Homo sapiens: one gene and its partners. The protein of the gene in region 2 interacts with the protein of the main gene of each other region in a pairwise test. Each region holds a gene or a part of one and is shown on either strand. Other genes may lie near its edges.

Region 1 (7,036 bases), on a different chromosome or scaffold from region 2:
ATATCCAACCAGTTCTGTGCAGTCTAAATACAGCAAGAACTTGTCCTTTGCATCAAACTTAGGACTTGGAAAACTGTTATTGCAGATACAGCACCTGCCTTCAGCCTGAATATTCCTCTCCACCTCAAAAAAAAAAAATTTTAATTGAAAAATTACATGTCACCAATTAAAGAAAATTGAAGGTATGGCCCAGTCCCACCTCTCTGACAAAATTATTTCGACTTTGAGTCTTTCCCAGTCACTGTCTACAGATACACTATTTATAAAGTTACAGCCACAGGCCAGGCGCAGTGGCTCAAGGCTGGGCGTGGTGGTTCACGCCTGTAATCCCAACACTTTGGGAGGCTGAGGCAGGTGGATCACCTGAGGTCAGGAGTTTGAGACCAGCCTGGCCAACATGGCAAAACCCCGTCTCTACTAAAAATACAAAAATTAGCCGGGCATGGTGGCAAATGCCTGTAATCCTAGCTACTTGAGAGGCTGAGGCAAGAGAATTGCTTGAACCTGGGAGGCGGAGGTTGCAGTGAACTGAGATTGTGCCATTGCATTCTAGCCTGGTCGACAGAGTGAGACTCCCTCAAAAAAAAAAAAGGCCAGGCACAGTGGCTCACCCCTGTAATCCTAGCACTTTGGGAGGCAGAGGCAGGCAGATCACCTGAGGTCAGGAGTTTGAGACCAGCCTGGCCAACATGGTGAAACCCCGTCTTTTTTAAAAATACAAAAATTTGCCAGGTGTGGTGGCTCACGCCTATAATCCCAGCTACTGGGGAGGCTGAGACAGGAGAATTGCCTGAACGCGAGAGGCAGAGGTTGCAGTGAGCTGAGATCATGCCATTGCACTCCAGGCTAGGCAACAGAGTGCAACTCCGTCTCAAAAAAAAAAAAAAAAAAAAAAAAAAAAGATAGCCGGGCATGGTGGCACGAGCCTGTAATCCCAGTTACTCAGGAGGCTGAGACAGGAGAATCACTTGAACCTAGGAGGCGGAGGTTGCAGTAAGCCGAGATCGTCCCATTGCACTCCAGCCTGGGCAACAGAGTGAGACTCCATCTCAAAAAAATAAAAATTAAAAATAAATAAAGTTATAACCACATGATGATGATAACAATGGTAGCAGCAACACCAGTAAAACCCACAACACCTGCGTCAACTCTCTACCCACCAGACACTTCTCTTCGCTCGCTCCCAACCCTCCCTCCCTCTCCTCTGACCCAGCCACCCAGGCACACAGCAGGCACAGCCCCACCTCAGGGCCTTTGCACTTGCACCCCCTGGTCTACCCTGCCCTCAGGTCAGCAGGGTGCCCTCCTTGCAGAGGCCTCCGCATCTGCAACAGTGGCCTTCCACCTGTCCCCAGAGCCACCCCTACCTGCTCCAGTCTTCTCCACCCCCGTGGCATAAAAAGGAATTTATTTGGTCTTTGTTCCTGGCATGGAGCTCCTAAAACCCTTGGAATTTCCTGAGTGACAGGAGTGGCTTTGTTATCCACAAGGAGCCTGAGTTTATGCTAATGAGGTGACTCAGGGTAAGGCCCCTAGACAGCCTCAGATGGGGCTGCTCCCCAGAAAACCCAGCTGATTATAGAGGGTGGGAACTCTCAGCATCACCCGCCAACTGATGCTGAGAGGAGGGGGGCCTGGAGACTGTGCTCTATAAAAACTTTCAGTGGGTGCAGTAGCTTGTGCCTATAATCCCAGCACTTTGGGAGGCCGAGGTAGGCAGATTGCTTGAGCCCAGGATTTCAAGACCAGCCTGGGCAACATAGTGAGACCCCTTTTCTACAAAACATTAAAAAAGTAGCTGGGCATAGGGGCACACACCTGTAGTTCCAGCTACTCAGGAGACTGAGGTAGGGGGATGGCTTGAGCCTGGGAGTTCAAGGCTGCAGTGAGCTGCGATGATACCACTGCACTCCAGCCTGAGCAACAGAGTGAGACCCTCTCTCACAAAAAACCTCTCCATGTGAGGCTGGGCGTGGTGGCTCATGCCTGTAATCACAGCACTTTGCGAGTCTGAGGCGGGCAGATCACTTGAGGTCAGGAGTTCAAGACCAGCCTCGCCAACATGGCAAAACCCCATCTCCACTAAAAATACAAAAATCAGCTGGGCATGGTGGTGCCTGTAATCCCAGCTACTCGGGAGGCTGAGGCACAAGAATCGCTTGAACCCAGGAGGCAGAGGTTACGGTGAGCTAAGATTGTGCCACTGCATTCCAGCCTGGGTGACAAAGTGAGACTCTGTGTCAAAAACAACAAAATTCCATGAGCTTGAGAAGCCTGTAGGTTCGCAAGCACAGGGAGGTACCAGGAGGGTGCCAGGCCCTGAGAGGGCACGGCAGCTCTGCACCCCACACTCACACCCCTCCCCCGTGAGTCTCTTCCATCTGGTTGGCCCTGAGTTATATCCTTTCTGATAAACCAGTAAACACAAATAAAGTGTTTCCCTGAGTTTTGTGAGCCATTCTAGGAAATTATCAAACCTTACGAGAGGGTCATGGGGACCCCCAATTTGTAGCTGGTCAGTCCAGTAGTATGGGAGACCCGCTACTTCCAACTGGTGTGTGATGTTGGGGGCAGTCTGGTGGGACAGAGCCCTTAACCTGTGGGGTCTGTGCGAACTCCAGGTAGCATCAGAACCGAACGGAACTGCAGGGCACTGGGTGGGTGTCTGGAGAATCCGAGAATGGGTTGCGGTGTTGGAAAACACCCCGCCAGCGCTTCTCACCACATCTTACTGATTCTATCTGACGGCCTCATCCCCAACACCAAACAGTCAAAGGGACTAGGGACAAGCAGGAATGTCCTGGGCCAGGCTTCCCTGGGCAGGGAAGGAGCTGACGCCCAGGACACTCCATTGGTCCCAAGCCACTCAACTGGCCAAGGCCACCAGCCTGAGCCCGACCTGCTGATGGCATCGTCCTTCCACGCGTCTCCTGCACAGCTTCCTAGCCCTGGCTGGGGGACACATCCTGGTGGTCTTCCCATCCCTCCAATCCACTGTCCACAGGGGAGCCAGAGCGGGCTCACCCACACCTTGACCTGAGCCCCAACACGGAAGGCATGGGGTTCTGCCAGGCAACTCCAGAAGCAACTGCTCTGGGCCCATCCCTACACCTGGACTTCGGACTTCTGCCACATCTGCCCTCACCCTACCCAAGCCAGGGATGCCTTTGGCTTCCACAGGCCCAGGATTGAGAGCCCGCCCACCCTTTCTACCACCCCACCGCAATGTACCAGGACGCCACCGACAACAAACCTTCTGCTATGAAATATTTTTGAAAAGATCTTTACCATCTTGCTTTTGCATGATTTACATACCAGGAACTTACGTAATTTGGGATTGGCTGTGATTTCTCAACAAGCACCAAGAACTCCAGAGAAAGCCCTGTGGCCACCATATCACAAAGCACCCAGGACTTCACGATGAGTGACCCTGACCCTAGGAGGTTCCCTTAAATAGATGGTAATTTCTGATGGCACATTTTCTTCTCAGATTTTGAAGCCAATACTTCTTTCCAGAACCTAAACTATTTGATGAGTCCCCCAAAAGCTCAGGGCCCCAGGCACGGCTCCACCCACCCCACCTGACCACCAAGGGCAGGCCCTGGCCCCCCACAGTACCATGGTGATGCCCAGGCTCCAGACGTCGGACTTGACATTGTAGCCCTTCTGGTTCAGCTCTGGGTTGATCCTCTCAGGCTGCAGGAGGGAAGAGTGAGGCGTGAACACCCGCCCCAGGTAAGCCCCCATGGCTAGGCCTTGCCTCCCAATCCCCAAACTGAGCGCTCAGCTTAGCCCACCTGCCCATGTGACGGGGGAGGAAACTGAGGCTAGGAGGGCCTGGGTCATGCTTAGAAGGCCCAACCCTTGCATCGGTCTGACCCTACCCGGGAGCAGGCCCCTAAGGCCCTCCTGACAATGAGGGCGGGGCGGGACCTGCACAGCCCACCAGTGTCCTCCGCAGAGGTGGTCCATGAGCTTATCACCCAACTGGGGCACTGTGGGGGTCAGTTAACAACGGGGTACAGAAGGGCTGCCCCTGGGCAGCAAGACACAGGTGGCCCCACTACAGCAGGAAACGCAGTGTGGGGAGGCTCTGCCCCTACGGACAGAGGGTATGGCCGGGGTGGCCAGCCTGGGCAGATTTCTCCCCGCCCCATCCTCTCCTGAGCCTGGGGGGCTTGGGGACCACTCACGGCCATGTAGGGCTTGCAGCCGGCATCCATCGTCTTGGCCACAGAGTCCACCAAGTAGCCACTGATGCCAAAGTCACACATCTTCACATGGCCCTCCTTGTTGATAAGGACATTGGAGGGCTTCACATCTGCCAGGGAGGGACATGCCTCAGCCACGTCTGTGGAGCACGACTGGAGGCAGGTGCCATGCTCTGCATAGCTGTGCCCCCCTCCCTCGCCCAAGACCCCTCCTGTGCCCCCTCCCATGCCCCAGTGGGCAGGTTGCACCAGGGTCCCAAGGGTCAGACCAGGGAACTGAGGCTGCAAGAGGTGCCGGGCCAGCTGAGAGTCATACTTGGTCCTCAGGGAACAGCCAGGACGTGCCCAGCCCGGCCCGGCCACTGCAAGGAAGGCAGGACTCCAGGTGCTTTGCTGGGAGCACCGTGCCTGCATCCGCCCTCCAGACATGAGGTCCAGTGAGAGCCTGGCTTGTGTGGGTGCTCCCAGAGGGCAGCAGGATCAATTAAAGCCTGGGAGGCAGGATCTGCGTGTTTGGACATGGAGTCCCCACAGACCAGCATGGGAGAGCAGCCCAGCAGGGATTCTCCATACAAATGCGCATAGGACACTCACATCCCCGTGCCCTCCATGGGGATGTGTGTAAAGATGGAAATGCACATAAAAAGGACCAGAAGGTTCCGTGCCAACCGCCAACCACAGTGACCTGGGGGGCTGGGATGGGCACCCAGTGGACAATGGGAACTAAGCCTAATTCATTTTTTGAAAAGCAGTAAATCTGGAAAAATAGACTTGTGCTCAGCAGCAAAAAGGAACAAACTGAGACCACACCAGACCCAGGTGGGTCCAGAAACATCAAGCGAGGCTGATGTTCCAGAAAGGGCGAAACCAACCCACTGTGGGAAAACCAGACTTGTGGGTGCCTTAGGCACATGGGGGATGGCAGGGAAGGAGCCCAAGAGAACATTCTGGGAGGGGGTGAGAGAATTGTCCTGCATCTTGGAGGGAGGTGGTTGCATGGGTGTGAACATGATTATATGCACTCTATGCTGGAGTTTCACGATTTGTAAACTATACATCAGAACAGAACCCAGTCCACCTTTCTCAGGACAGAAGTCAAGCCAGTCCTTGCTTCGAGCACCAGCAAACCTGAGGGGAGGCAGCTGCAGGGCTGCAGGTGGAAAGCGGCTGGAACCCCATCGGGCACGTCACAACCTATCACCTCTCGGAGCCACAGTTGCTCATAGGGAGACGTCCACCCGCCTTGGCCTGGGATCCCTCCCACTGGCTACACCGTGCCTGGGTGGCTGCCGGGCACTGACCTCTGTGGATCACCGACAGCTTGCTGTGCAGATGCTCCAGGGCCCGCACGATCTGGCGGTGGGGTGGGGAGGAGGGAAGAGACAGGACTCTGTTATTCCTGGTCACGTCAAAAACGACAGAGCAGTAAGACCCCATCCATGTCCACCTGTCTCCCGCTCCCGCTGCACAGGCTACGCACCCTCTCATCCCAGCCTCCTGCCCTGTCCTGGCATTTGCCCCAGCATCCTAACAATCCTGGTGCAGACACACTCGGCCTCCTGCCTCCTCTCATCCTCCCGGGCTCACCTCCCAGGGAGGCATCATCACTGCCTGCCACACTCTTCTTGGGTAAAACCCAGCTCTTGGCAGCCTCCCTGTCCCATCTCCCCTCCCGTGGCAGAGCCAGTATTCTAGCAGCTTGGAGCCATTTCCCTTGGGAAGGCTGGGTGGGGAGCCTGAGGCAGGGGTATATTGTAAATGTTTCCAGATGCAGTGAGGATTGAACCAGTCTCACTGGTTCTATTTTCCTTTTTCCTTTGGCTACTGGAATGCTCAAGCCCAGTGTTGCTGCCCTCCCTCAAGGACTTTTTAGACTCAAAAAGCACACATTTTGGATGCTAACCTTTCCCCCAACTTAGCTTGTACCTCTGTGAGCTGCCCCGGGGCATTTTTAGTATGACGCTGTTGTAAATACTAAATTCCTTTTTTAAAAAATGATCTGGAACTCAAGAGTTGGAATCAATGGCTCAGACACCTGGATCTGCCAAATCTGTGGGGCTCCAGGAGCCCCAGGAGCGGAGGTCTCCTAAGCACAAAGGCTCTGGTCTGGGGTGGAGGAGAAGGGCCTATGCAGGGCAGCTGCCCAGGTTCAGGGGGCACATTGATGCCCAGCTCTGCCCAAGACACCATCAATAGGCAGGCTCCATGCCTGCTGGCAGGGCTGGGCCTCTGCCTATGCACCTAGGACCCCCCGCCAGCCCACCCAGGCCACTCACAGACACAGCAATCTCCCCAAGGATGTCCTCTGGAATTGTCATGTTTTTATCCAGCACCTTCCGGTAGAACTTGTCCAAGGATGTGTCCATGAGCTCCATGCAGATCCACACGTCTCCCTGTGGGTGACACCCAGAGCTCAGCCAGGCTGCCGGGCTGCCCGTGTCTGCACCACCTGCACTGCCTGCCCCAGCACCAGCCCCAGCCCCAGCCCCCTCTCCGACGTGTGCCCACCCACTCAGCCACAGTTCACCGGGCTCCCACCCACCACCCACTTGCCCGCTTCCCCCACCCTCCAACTCTGCCTGCACTGCCAGGTTCGGGCGCCAGCCTCCTCTATCTGATCCCTAATTCCAGGTGTCTCCAGGGAGGAAGAGGATTAGCACACAGCCTCGCTGGGTCCCTCCACCAGAGCTTCAGGATGCACCTGCACCAGCTCCATGGCAACAGCCGGCCCTGCTGACCGACAGACACCCTCATGCCAGCTGACCCTGGCAGATGGCTCCCTGCCTGCAAGGACCTGCTCCCTCTTCCCCAGTGAACTCCTGAGG
Region 2 (3,563 bases):
CCCTCTGCCTCCTAAGCCAGTGCCTGTCCCTATTTGGGATTTGGGATCATGTCATCGGTGCAGTGAGTGGCTGCCCACAAGCCCCTCCACAGCAAGTTTTGAGGTCAACCATAGCTGCCATAGGGTCCTGAGCATCCAACCACTCTGTCTTCCTAAAGGGGCCTAGATTGCCTAAAAGTTTGGAACTCCCCCTAAAATAGGGGACATCTTTGCACTCAGCTCTTCTGCTCCAACCCCGAGAGTGGAGACAATGAAGGGCCACATCTGTGTGGGGGCGAAGAGGGGGTGACATAATTTTCCAGTGATTGTGGCATCAGGGCCAGCAGAAGGGGAAATGAATCCTCTTCAAGTCCAGAGGCAGGGCCATTTCACTGGACTCTGGAAAGGACCTCACCCTGGGTTCAGCTCCCAAGAGATTTTTTTTTCCCCAGCCCGTTTCATTTCAGGGGCACTCCACTACCCTGCCCCCATTTTCTACCTGTAGAATAGAGACCAGGCTTAAGCAGGAAACACTGGGACGAGGTTCTTTAATAGGAGTAGGAAAGAGAAAAATAAATAAACCTCATAAATTCAGGAGAGCAAATGATGCTGACCTTGTCAGGCAGGCAGCCTGAGAGGGGTACATGGTAGGAACTGCCTGCCCCCAGGCCTAGGAAGAGGGGTGAGCCAGGGTCAGGGTGGAACAGCACCCAAGAGCCCACTGCCCCTTGTGACTCAGCCAAGCAGGGCCAAGGCAGCTTTTCCATTTCAGCCTCCCGTTCCGGACAGGCAGAGGGGAGGGGAGGGCCCTCAGCCAGGGAGTGGCCGTCCCCAGGGAGCTGTGAGGTAGTGCCAGGATCTGCCTCAAGGAGTGGACAAGGCCAACTCAGGGCAGGCCTGATGGGGCCTGGAAGCCTGGGGCAGGAGGGTTCGGGGCTAGAGTGGAGGTGAGTGGGTCCAACCCTCCAGGTGAGGAAACTGAGCCCAGAGCTGGTTGCTCAATAGGAAAGGCAGAGTGGGGCCAGGATCCCACTTTCTGCCTTCCAGTCCATAGTCTTTTGCCCTCAACAAATATATGACACTTATCTAGAGATGGAGGGGGAGGTAGGAAGTCAGCTTGAGAAGACTTCTAGGCCCCAGAGAGGCCCTGCCGTGAGGGTGCCTGGGTCCTGTCTCAGACTCTGGCCTGGCCGTTGAGGAGGGGGCTGCAGCGTCCAAGGCAGCCACAGGTTCCCACAGCCTCAGAAGGCTGGGGCTCCTTTTTCCTGGGGGAATAGAACCACATCCCAGAGAAGGGGCTGAACCTCCTTGCTAAATGTCCCAGTGGGATGGGGGCATCAGAGGCGGCTCTCCTGGGCATCTGCCTTTGCTATGAGTGGGTCCTGCTCACACAGCTCTGGGGGGCACTCGCAGGCCCTCTCAGGCTTGTCCTTGGCCTCGGAGGGAAAGCAGGTCCTGAGGCAGGCCCTCACCGACTCCTTCACCTCTGCCTCCAGACCCTTCATCCTGGCCTCGTACTCTGCCAGCGCCTCCTTCTGGAACTGTGGAGACAGCAAGGACCCCTGCCTGGCTCAGGAGGGGCCTGCTGGCCACCCTCGCTCCCTGGACAGTGGGAACAGGAGATGCCCAATATCCATGTTCGGAGCTCCCAGGAGACTGGGGTGAGAGGCAGGGTGGGGGAGTGGTAGAGCCCATCAGGAGCCTCTCAGGAAAGGGGATCCTAACCAGGCGGAGATCTGCAGAGCTGCCTCATTTGAAAGGGCCTCGGGACCCCACAGTGAAGGATGATGGCCCCCTTCCCCTACCCTCTCACTGGCAGCTCCCTGGGGCAAGGCCCCTTTACAACCCGGAACCCATTCAGTTCTGCTGGGGGTCCCAGTAGTGAACCTGTTACCTGCTTTTCCATCTCCCGTATCTGTTCCAGGCAAGCCGCCTGCTTCTCCTCCAGCTTCTCCTGGTGCCTCTCCAAGTTCTCCGTCATCTGGGTGGGAGTGGATGGCAGAGAATCAGGACAACACAGACAGGCAAGCTGGGTCAGAATCCAGCTGTAATCCCAGCTAACTAGTTGTAAGACTTTGGGCAAATTCCTTAACATTAGGTAGTTTTTAAAATTTGTAAGATAAGGATAGCAGCACCTGTCTCACTGGACTGTAAAAGATTATACAAGACAGCTCATGTGAGGCACCTGGCAGAGTGCCTGGCACAGGTCAGGACCCAGTAGGTGGCAGCTGTGTTCTGTGGTTAATGATCCCTAGGGGAGCTTCAGGTCCATTATTCCTTGGCACCTCAGGAAGCTTCCTCACTCCCTCTTCATCCCCTGACCCTCGCCAGTCCCAGCCTCCCCTGGCCCTGATATGGGCCAGTTAGCCCATATCATTTCCACACATGAGAACTGGCCAGAGACAGATCCCTTCAGGCTGGTACCCCAACCTCCATACACAGGCCAGAACCCCAGGATGTCCCCTGCCACCCCAGCTGCATGGACAGCGCTAGGCAGTGCATCTCCTAAGGGCAAAGTCAGGGCCTGGGGCCACCCCTTCCTACTTGTGAAGAGAGAGAGAGAGAGAGAGAGAGAGAGAGAGAGAGAGAGAGTGTGTGTGTGTGTGTGTGTGTGTGTGTGTTTAGGAAGGACACAGCCCTTACACACCTGCTTGATCACCTGCACTACTTCCTGGATGTGGGAGTTGTTAATCTCTCTCTTCAACCTGTTGGTGTAATTGGAGTTTTAGAAAAGGGAGAAAACCCCTAGGGAGAGTAGGGTAACATGAAGTCTACGCAGGATGTAGGCAAATGAGAAATCCAACATAGGGCAGGAACCAGCTGGGGGCAGGTGTGGGGACCCAAGGAGTATGTAGGGGCCACTGGGAGTCCTGGGGCCCTCTGAGGGAACCATTTCCCCATCAAAACACACTGTCCTTCCGTGGGAAACAGTGCCACCACAGTGGACAGGCTACAATCCCAAGGCCTCAGCTCCCTCCCTGCAGGCTTGGCTGCCTCCAGAGCTCTGCCCATGTAGTGTTGGCCTCCGTGTTTTGTCTGAGGAGGACACTCTGATCAAAGGTGACAGGGGGGATCCGCTTTTTGGAGAGCCAGGGGACAGATGCATCTTTGGGAAGTGAGTCAGGATCCATTTGTAGAGAGGCCCCTTTCCACCTGAAGTGGGGTCTGCCCAGCCCTGGGCCTCCCCTCCAGGGCTCACCTCTCCTGGGCCATCTTGTCTGTGGTGACTTTGGTCATGCCCTGGATCCGCTCCAGTCTCTTTGTCTCCAGCTTTTTCTTCATCTCTTTGGTGTCGCTGCAGAGAGACAGGCATGAAGGAGCTGTTTTGTGCGGCTGAGCCCTTGCTGGGAGGCGAAGCAGGTGTGGGAGGGAGGCAGTCGTACTTCTCCGACGTCTCCTTCAGGGCCTTCAGCTCTGCCGCCTGTTTCTCTCTGGCCAGCTCCATCATTTTGGAGATTTGCTGCAGGGAGAGGAAGTAAGCTTGGCGAGAAGCCCTTTGTTGTTCAGAGGGAGTACGGGGGGCGGGGGTCGGTGGAGGGGAGTCGGTGAGGGGGTTGGGTCGGTGAGAGGGGCGAATGGGGTCC
Region 3 (7,036 bases), on a different chromosome or scaffold from region 2:
ACAGTCAAATTTAAAATAAACATTTCCTTTAAAGCCAGAAACCAGAGTGGGGTGCCTGCTATGCTTCTACTCAGCACTGCACTGGAAATTCTAGCCAGTGTAATATGACAAGGAGAAGAAATAAAAGGAATAAATATAGGAAAGGAAAAACCAAAAGTCTCAGTGTGATATAATAACCTATGCAGAAAACTCAAAACAGTCTACAAGTAAATTATAAAAATTAGGAGTGTTGGCAAGTTCACTGAGTGTAGGATACTAAAATCAATTGCATTTTTCTACATTGATAACAAACAAGGCACAGGCGCACTGGCTGGTGCCTGTAATCCCAGCTACTCTAGTCTCAGCTATTCAGGAGGCTAAAAAATGGGAGGATGGCTTGAGCCCAGCAGCTGAGGGCTGCAGTTAGCTGTGATCACGCCACTGTGCTCCAGCCTGGCCAACAAGGACCCTGTCTTTAAAAAATAATAAAAAAAAATAGAAAAAGTAATTATTAAAAAAATCCAGTTATATTAACAGTAACAGCAAAATATGAGCTTCCTAAGAATATGTTGCTTTTGCTATGTATATAAAGAGAAAGAGCTCTATCTCTATGTATACACAGCAAAAGTGGTCAAACTTCATGGAGAAAATTTAAAAATTTTATCAAAAGCCAACATGGATCTAAATAAATGGGAGAAAAGTACTGTGTTCAAGCCTAGGTTGACATATTATAGACATATCAGTTATCCCTATTGGTCAATTTAATGCAATTTCCATGAAAATTTCAGCAAGATTTTTCAGTAGAACTTGATAAAAGTAATTCTGAAGTTTATATGAAAGCACAAAGGGCCAAGATTAGGCAGAAGAGAAACAAGGTGGATGGACTTGCTCTGCCAGATTTCAAGACTCATTATAAAACTATAGTAATTAAGACAATGTGGGTATCAGAACAGGGTTGAAAAACATAGACCTGTGATACAGAATAGAAAACCCTAGAACAGATCCACACATATATGGAAACTCGGTAAATGACAATTGGCATTGCTGGTCAGTGGGGAAAGGAAGAACTTAAAAAAAATTAAGCTGGGACAATTGGATATCTAAATAGAAATTATGAAATTGGATCTCTGTCTCATACCAGTAAAAAGTCAACTTCAGATGGATTAAAGACAATATGAAAGTAAAAGCTCACAACACTTTTAGAAAAAAAAAAATAGGGCAGTATCTTCATTACCTTATGCTGGGAAAGGATTTGTTAGTATACCACAAGTATAAACCTTAAGAAAAAAATGGATAAATTCGACTTCTTTAAAATGAAGAACCTAGGCCAGGCGCAGTGGCTCACACCTGTAGTCCCAGCTCTTTGGGAGGCTGAGGTAGGTAGATCATTTGAGTCCAGGATTTTGAGACCAGCCTGGGCAACATGGTGAAACCCCGTCTCTACAAAAAATACAAAAAATTAGTCGGGTGTGATGGCATGCACCTGTGGTCCCAGGTACTCTAGAGGCTGAGGTGGGAGGATTGCTTGAGCTGGGGAGGTTAAGCCTGCTGTGAGCTGTGATCACAACACTTCACTCAGCCTGGGTGACAGAGTGACAGAATGAGACCCTGTCTCAAAAAAAAAAAAAAAAAAAAAAAAAAAAAGAACCTCTGTTCATCAAAAGGAAAACGTAAGTCATTAAGTGGGAGAATATGATTCCAACACAAATAACCAACAAATGATTTGTAGTACCTAGAATAAATAAAATACTCCAATGAATAAAAAATAAAAAGATTAGCCATTAAAAATTGGTCAAAAAATAATTTCACAGAAGAGGAAACAGCTAAAAGATATAGGAAAAGATATTCAACTTCATTAGAACTCAATGAACTACAAGCTAAAAAATCCACAGTGAGAATAAGTGTTGGTGAGGAACGTGGAGATGGTAGCAATATCCGTGTTACAACCATTTTGAAAATGGTTTGTTGTAATCTATTATAATTGAAGGTGGGCATTACCTGTGGCCCAGCAATTCCACTCCTAAGTCAGTACCCCTAGAGAAACTCCTACACACCTATTAGAAAAGTGGATTGGGGCTGGGCGTGGTGGCTCACGCCTGTAATCCCAGCACTTTGGGAGGCTGAGGTGGGTGGATCACCTGAGGTCGGGAGTTTGAGACCTGCCTGACCAACCCCGTCTCTACTAAAAATACAAAAGTTAGCTGGCGTGGTGGTGCATGCCTGTAATTCCAGCTACTTGGGAGGCTGGGGCAGAAGAATTGCTTGAACCTGGGAGTCAGAGGTTGCAGTGAGCCGAGATTGTGCCACTGCACTCCAGCCTGGTAACAGAGTGAGACTCTGTCTCAAAAAAAAAAAAAAAAAAAAAAAAGAAAGATGGATTGGAATGTGGATAGCATTTTTACTTCTGATGGCCCAAAACTGGAAACTTCCCAAATGTCTTTTAACAGTAGTATGTTTACATAAATTGTGCTATGTTCATATAATGATATACTCTGTCACTGAAATGAATAAACCACAGCTATAATTATCAATGGGGATGAATCTCAAAAACATAATGTTGAGTGAAAAAAAATAAAGGTTCAATACCAGATAAAACTAAACCAGATATCATTTAGGGTATACTGTATGTACAATAGTTATAATAAAGGAGTGGTGAACACAAAATTGGGACAATGGTTTCTTTTGGGACAAGAGAGTGATATGGACAAGGAGTAGCCAGATAGTACATGGGCTGTCAGAGATACTGACATTGTTCTCTTAAGCTTGGTGGTGGCTGCACAGGTCTTTCTTTCATTTCTTTAAACTCCACACATATATGTTATATATACTCATATGTTTTATATTTTATAATTCAGACATTTTCTTGAAAAGCCCTGGGCTAAGAACCAAGCATATTTTATGTAGAGTACCTCCCCACCTCCTTTAATAATCACTTTATTCTTCCTGTCAGAACTCCCACTCCAAGTCTTATAATGCTTTTATCCAAGGAAGGGAAGAAGGATATCTGCCACAGAACTCCACCCTGGTGTGGAATATTATTCTACTGCCCACTAGTCTTTTCCTGTCTATGATAGATTTCCTTTATTCACTATTTGTACAGACCCCTTAAATTTCTAAGGTAGCCTACCTCATTTTCCCATTACTCTCTGCATTGTTCTGGAAGCTTTTCAGGATTCTTGTTGCAGTTATGTTGTCGATGAAGAGAGTAGATAAGGCGCCCTCTCTGCTCTTTGCTGATTTGTGTATGTGAATACATGCGTGTTTTTTTTTCTTTTTTTTCTTTTTTGTGATGGAGTCTCGCTCTGTCACCCAGGCTGGAGTGCAATGGCGGGATCTCGGCTCACTGCAACCTCCACCTCCTGGGTTCAAGCAATTCCCCCACCTCTGCCTCCCAAGTAGTTGGGATTACAGGCACCCAGGCACCTTACATCAAGCCCGGCTAATTTTTTGTTTGTTTGTTTTTTTGTAGAGATGGAGTTTCACCATGTTGGCCAGGCTGGTCTTGAACTCCTGACCTCAGGTGATCCACCAGCCTTGGCCTCCCAAAGTGCTGGGATTACAGGTGTGATCTGCCACGCCTGGCTGATGGGTACAATTATTATTTCCATTTTCACAGGTGAGAACACAGAGTCACAGAAAGGTCAGATAGCTTGCCACATGGTCACATGGCAGAGCCAGAATTCAAAACCAGGCAGAATGATGTCCATGCCCTTAACTGCTGGGATATTCTTTGGTGTTTTGCACTTCTTGACACCCTTTGTTAGAAGCTATCAAGTAAACCCTAATTCTTATTCTTTTATTCCACAGCAGAGTTCTTTAGTACACCAGATCTTCTTTCTTCCCCAAGGGATGCCTTTTCTGCCCTCTTCTCTGGTTCATTTAGGTGTTCTCTAGACTCTGGTGTCAGGGCAACTCCAAGTTATGACTCTCAATTTAATATCATTCCTATTTTTGCAGAACTATAGTTAAGATTGTATTTGGCATATTATGATTTACAAAGCACTCTTGCTAGTTGTCTTTTCCTTGATCCTTAACATAATCCTGGAAGGTAAGAGAGACGGTGTAGTGATTAAGAGTGTAGGTAGCTCCCCTGGCTTTGTGACCTCGGGCAAATACTTAACTTCTTCAAATTTCAGATTTTGTATCTGTAAAATTAGGGTAATAATAGTATGTACCTATTAGATGCTGGAGAAGCAAGCATTAAAAGAATTGATACATGTAAAACACATAGGCTAGTGCCTGGTACTGTTGTGCTTAACAAATGTTAGCTAGTCTTATTTTTTATATGATAAGGAAAGTGAAGTTTAATCTCAATTTTGTAAAACTGTGTATTTAAGTATCTATATGTACAAAACAAGACTGGAAAGAATTATGCCAGAATTCTCAGAGGTTAGTAGGATTATGGGTAATTTTTATTTCTTGAGGCTCTCCTATATTTTCCATTTCTGTTTATAAACAATAAACATGTATAACTTTTGAACCTACCTTTTAAAACATTTGAAACTAATTTTAGAATATAAGTAGACCTTAAATAAAGAATGTTACATATTGACTTAGTTCCTCTAAATAAAATTTTAAAGGCATACTATATTTGGATTGAACATTTCCTAGACTGCTTTCCAGTGAAAGGAAGGCAGCCACACCTAATTATGCACTGGGGAAGGCGCTTCTAGTGAAAGCAAAATGTGTCTTTTGGAACGGAACAATAGTTCATATTTTGGCTTAATTGCAGGATCTTTTCTTTGTAATTGAAATTTTAAAACTTTATGTAAATGAAATATTTAATAAACAGAATCACCTTAATCTGTTCGGATTGCTATAAAAAATAGACTGGGTGCCTTAAACAACAGAAATTTATGCCTCACAGTTATGTAGGCTGGGTAGTCTAGGATCAGGGTTCAGGCAGATTCAGTATCCAGTGAGGGTCCACATTCTGGTTCATGGACAGCTGTCTTCTCACTGTTCTCTCAGGGTGGAAATGAGTGAGAGAGCTTTCTGAGGCCTCTTTTAAAAGGCATTAATCCCATTCATGAGAGCTCCTCCCCCATGAACTAATCGTCTCCCAAAGGCCCCACCTCCTAATACCATCACATTGGGGGTTAGGATTTTAACATAAGGATTTGTGGAGGGGGAGTGGGAGGGGGAATGGGACACAAACATTCAATCTATAGCAAGAACTTAAACTCCTTTCCACTGCAGTCTCTTCCAAGATGGTAGCTTGGAATAGTCAATGCTGAGCAAGTTCTCTTTTTTTTTTCATGTGATAGTAACAATTCCCTAGAGTCTGTCAGGTGTGGAAAAGGATTAAGCTGGTGCCAGTAGGATTTGTTCTGTGCTTCCCAGCAGCATGGCCCACAGTCATTCTCCAAATTAAAATTATCGTGACTCTTTCACATGATTATGTAATGAGCTTTTAGGTAACATTTCAATTAAAAAAAATAGGAAAGATTGTAAACCTCCAGTAAAAGAAGGACTATTAGGTGGGATTTGGTGTCAGTTTAAACCTGGGTTCAAATTCTAAACTAGGCTACTTATTAGTTGTATGAGCCAAGTATGCAATTTTACTCAGCCTCAGTTTTTTAATCTTTAATAATACCTGAGGATTAAGTAAGATAGCTAATTATAGTATGTCTTTGAACACTTACAATAAACTGTTTATGGTACTATGTTAAACATAATGCTTTCATTATTTTATTAACTCTTCTTATTTATTTATTTATTTATTTATTTTTTTCAAGACAGAGTCTCGCTCTGTCACCCGGGCTGGAGTGCAATGCCATGATTTCAGCTCACTGCAACCTCTGCCTCCCAGGTTCAAGCAATTCTCCTGCCTCAGCCTCCTGAGTAGCTGGGATTATAGGTGCACACCACCATGCCCGGCTAATTTTTGTACTTCTAGTAGAGATGGGATTTCACCATGTTGGCCAAGCTGGTCTCAAATTCCTGACCTCGTGATCCGCCCACCTTGGCCTCCCAAAGTGCTGGGATTACAAGTGTGAGCCACTGCGCCCAGCCAACTCTTCTTACTAACATTATAAGTCAGAGAAGGCAATATGGCTAAGTGGCTAAGAGGCTAGTCTCTGCAGTCAGAATATCTGGATTTAAATCCTAACTCTCCCATACTTCTTGATGTCCAACTTCCTCATTTGTAAAATAGGGATGATTATTACCCCCATTTTCCAATTTGGGGAAATGAGGATGATTAATATTAACCTATTTCACTGGATTGTTGTACGACATTATAGGGTAATGTTTAGGAGTACGGTCTCTAGAATTGAAATGTCTGACTCTGAATCCTAACTCTAGCACTTATTAGCTGTGTGACCTTAAATAAGCACCTTTGAGCATCAGTTTCCTTAGGCTCATGATGTGAGCCTTCCCACTTGGCCGGTGAAGTGTCTTCATGACATGGGAATTGTCTTTCCCTAGGGTGAACCGAGAGAAAGAAAGATGAAAACCACAGTGACTTTATGACTTGCCCTCAAAAGTAGCATACTGTCACTACTGTTTTATTCTATTAGTTAGAAATAAGTAGCTAAGTTCAGCCTGTACTCAAGGAGAGGGGAATGAGACTTCACCTATTTAAGGGAGGAATAGCAAATAATTTGTGGACATATTTTAGAACTACCTACAGTCTAACCTCTGCACACAAATTGTTTACCTTATTCTCACCTGCAAGTAACCTCTTCCCATCCATATCCTCTCCAAAGTCACAACATCAGCTGGAAATCCATGATGTTGGCATCTATTACAAATATGATCCAGGAGAGACTTCTTGTATGTAGTAGTTCCTTAAGTGTAACGTCTTTCAGCTTTAGGATGACTACTATAGACTCTTCTGTTCAAAAAATGAGAAAATAGAAAGTATAGAATAACTGCTATACAGTCCTGTTCAAAAATGGAAAAAAAATAGGAGCCACTGGTTTATGGTATTCTGAACTCCTCCTGGGCAAATGTTGCCAGTTCCTTGATTAAGACTCAAGTCCTGGGAATAGTTCATGGCTCTTGATTCTGCCCTCTAAGTCATTATTTTACATGAATTGTAGCTCATGTTTGC

What was found. The genes of interacting proteins can lie anywhere in the genome.
Region 1: the proteins of PLCB2 (region 2) and MAP2K3 interact in a two-hybrid assay, tested with the Homo sapiens proteins (one study listed by BioGRID).
Region 3: the proteins of PLCB2 (region 2) and CTNNAL1 interact in binary tests that used the Homo sapiens proteins (3 or more experiments, as listed by UniProt).

What each region holds. Positions count from the first base shown.
Region 1 is NC_000017.11:21,301,711-21,308,746, reverse strand, and holds part of MAP2K3 (dual specificity mitogen-activated protein kinase kinase 3), read right to left. Parts: intron 6,605-7,036; coding exon 6,488-6,604; intron 5,565-6,487; coding exon 5,513-5,564; intron 4,322-5,512; coding exon 4,194-4,321; intron 3,697-4,193; coding exon 3,619-3,696; intron 1-3,618. UniProt on the Homo sapiens protein: Dual specificity kinase. Is activated by cytokines and environmental stress in vivo. Catalyzes the concomitant phosphorylation of a threonine and a tyrosine residue in the MAP kinase p38.
Region 2 is NC_000015.10:40,287,399-40,290,961, forward strand, and holds the end of PLCB2 (1-phosphatidylinositol 4,5-bisphosphate phosphodiesterase beta-2), read right to left. Parts: intron 3,440-3,563; coding exon 3,363-3,439; intron 3,275-3,362; coding exon 3,179-3,274; intron 2,685-3,178; coding exon 2,627-2,684; intron 1,961-2,626; coding exon 1,874-1,960; intron 1,542-1,873; coding exon of another isoform or gene 1,521-1,541; coding exon 1,317-1,520; 3' UTR 511-1,316; downstream 1-510. UniProt on the Homo sapiens protein: The production of the second messenger molecules diacylglycerol (DAG) and inositol 1,4,5-trisphosphate (IP3) is mediated by activated phosphatidylinositol-specific phospholipase C enzymes.
Region 3 is NC_000009.12:109,003,464-109,010,499, reverse strand, and holds part of CTNNAL1 (alpha-catulin), read left to right. Parts: intron 1-3,693; exon of another isoform or gene 3,694-4,020; intron 4,021-6,317; exon of another isoform or gene 6,318-6,404; intron 6,405-6,651; exon of another isoform or gene 6,652-6,817; intron 6,818-7,036. UniProt on the Homo sapiens protein: May modulate the Rho pathway signaling by providing a scaffold for the Lbc Rho guanine nucleotide exchange factor (ARHGEF1).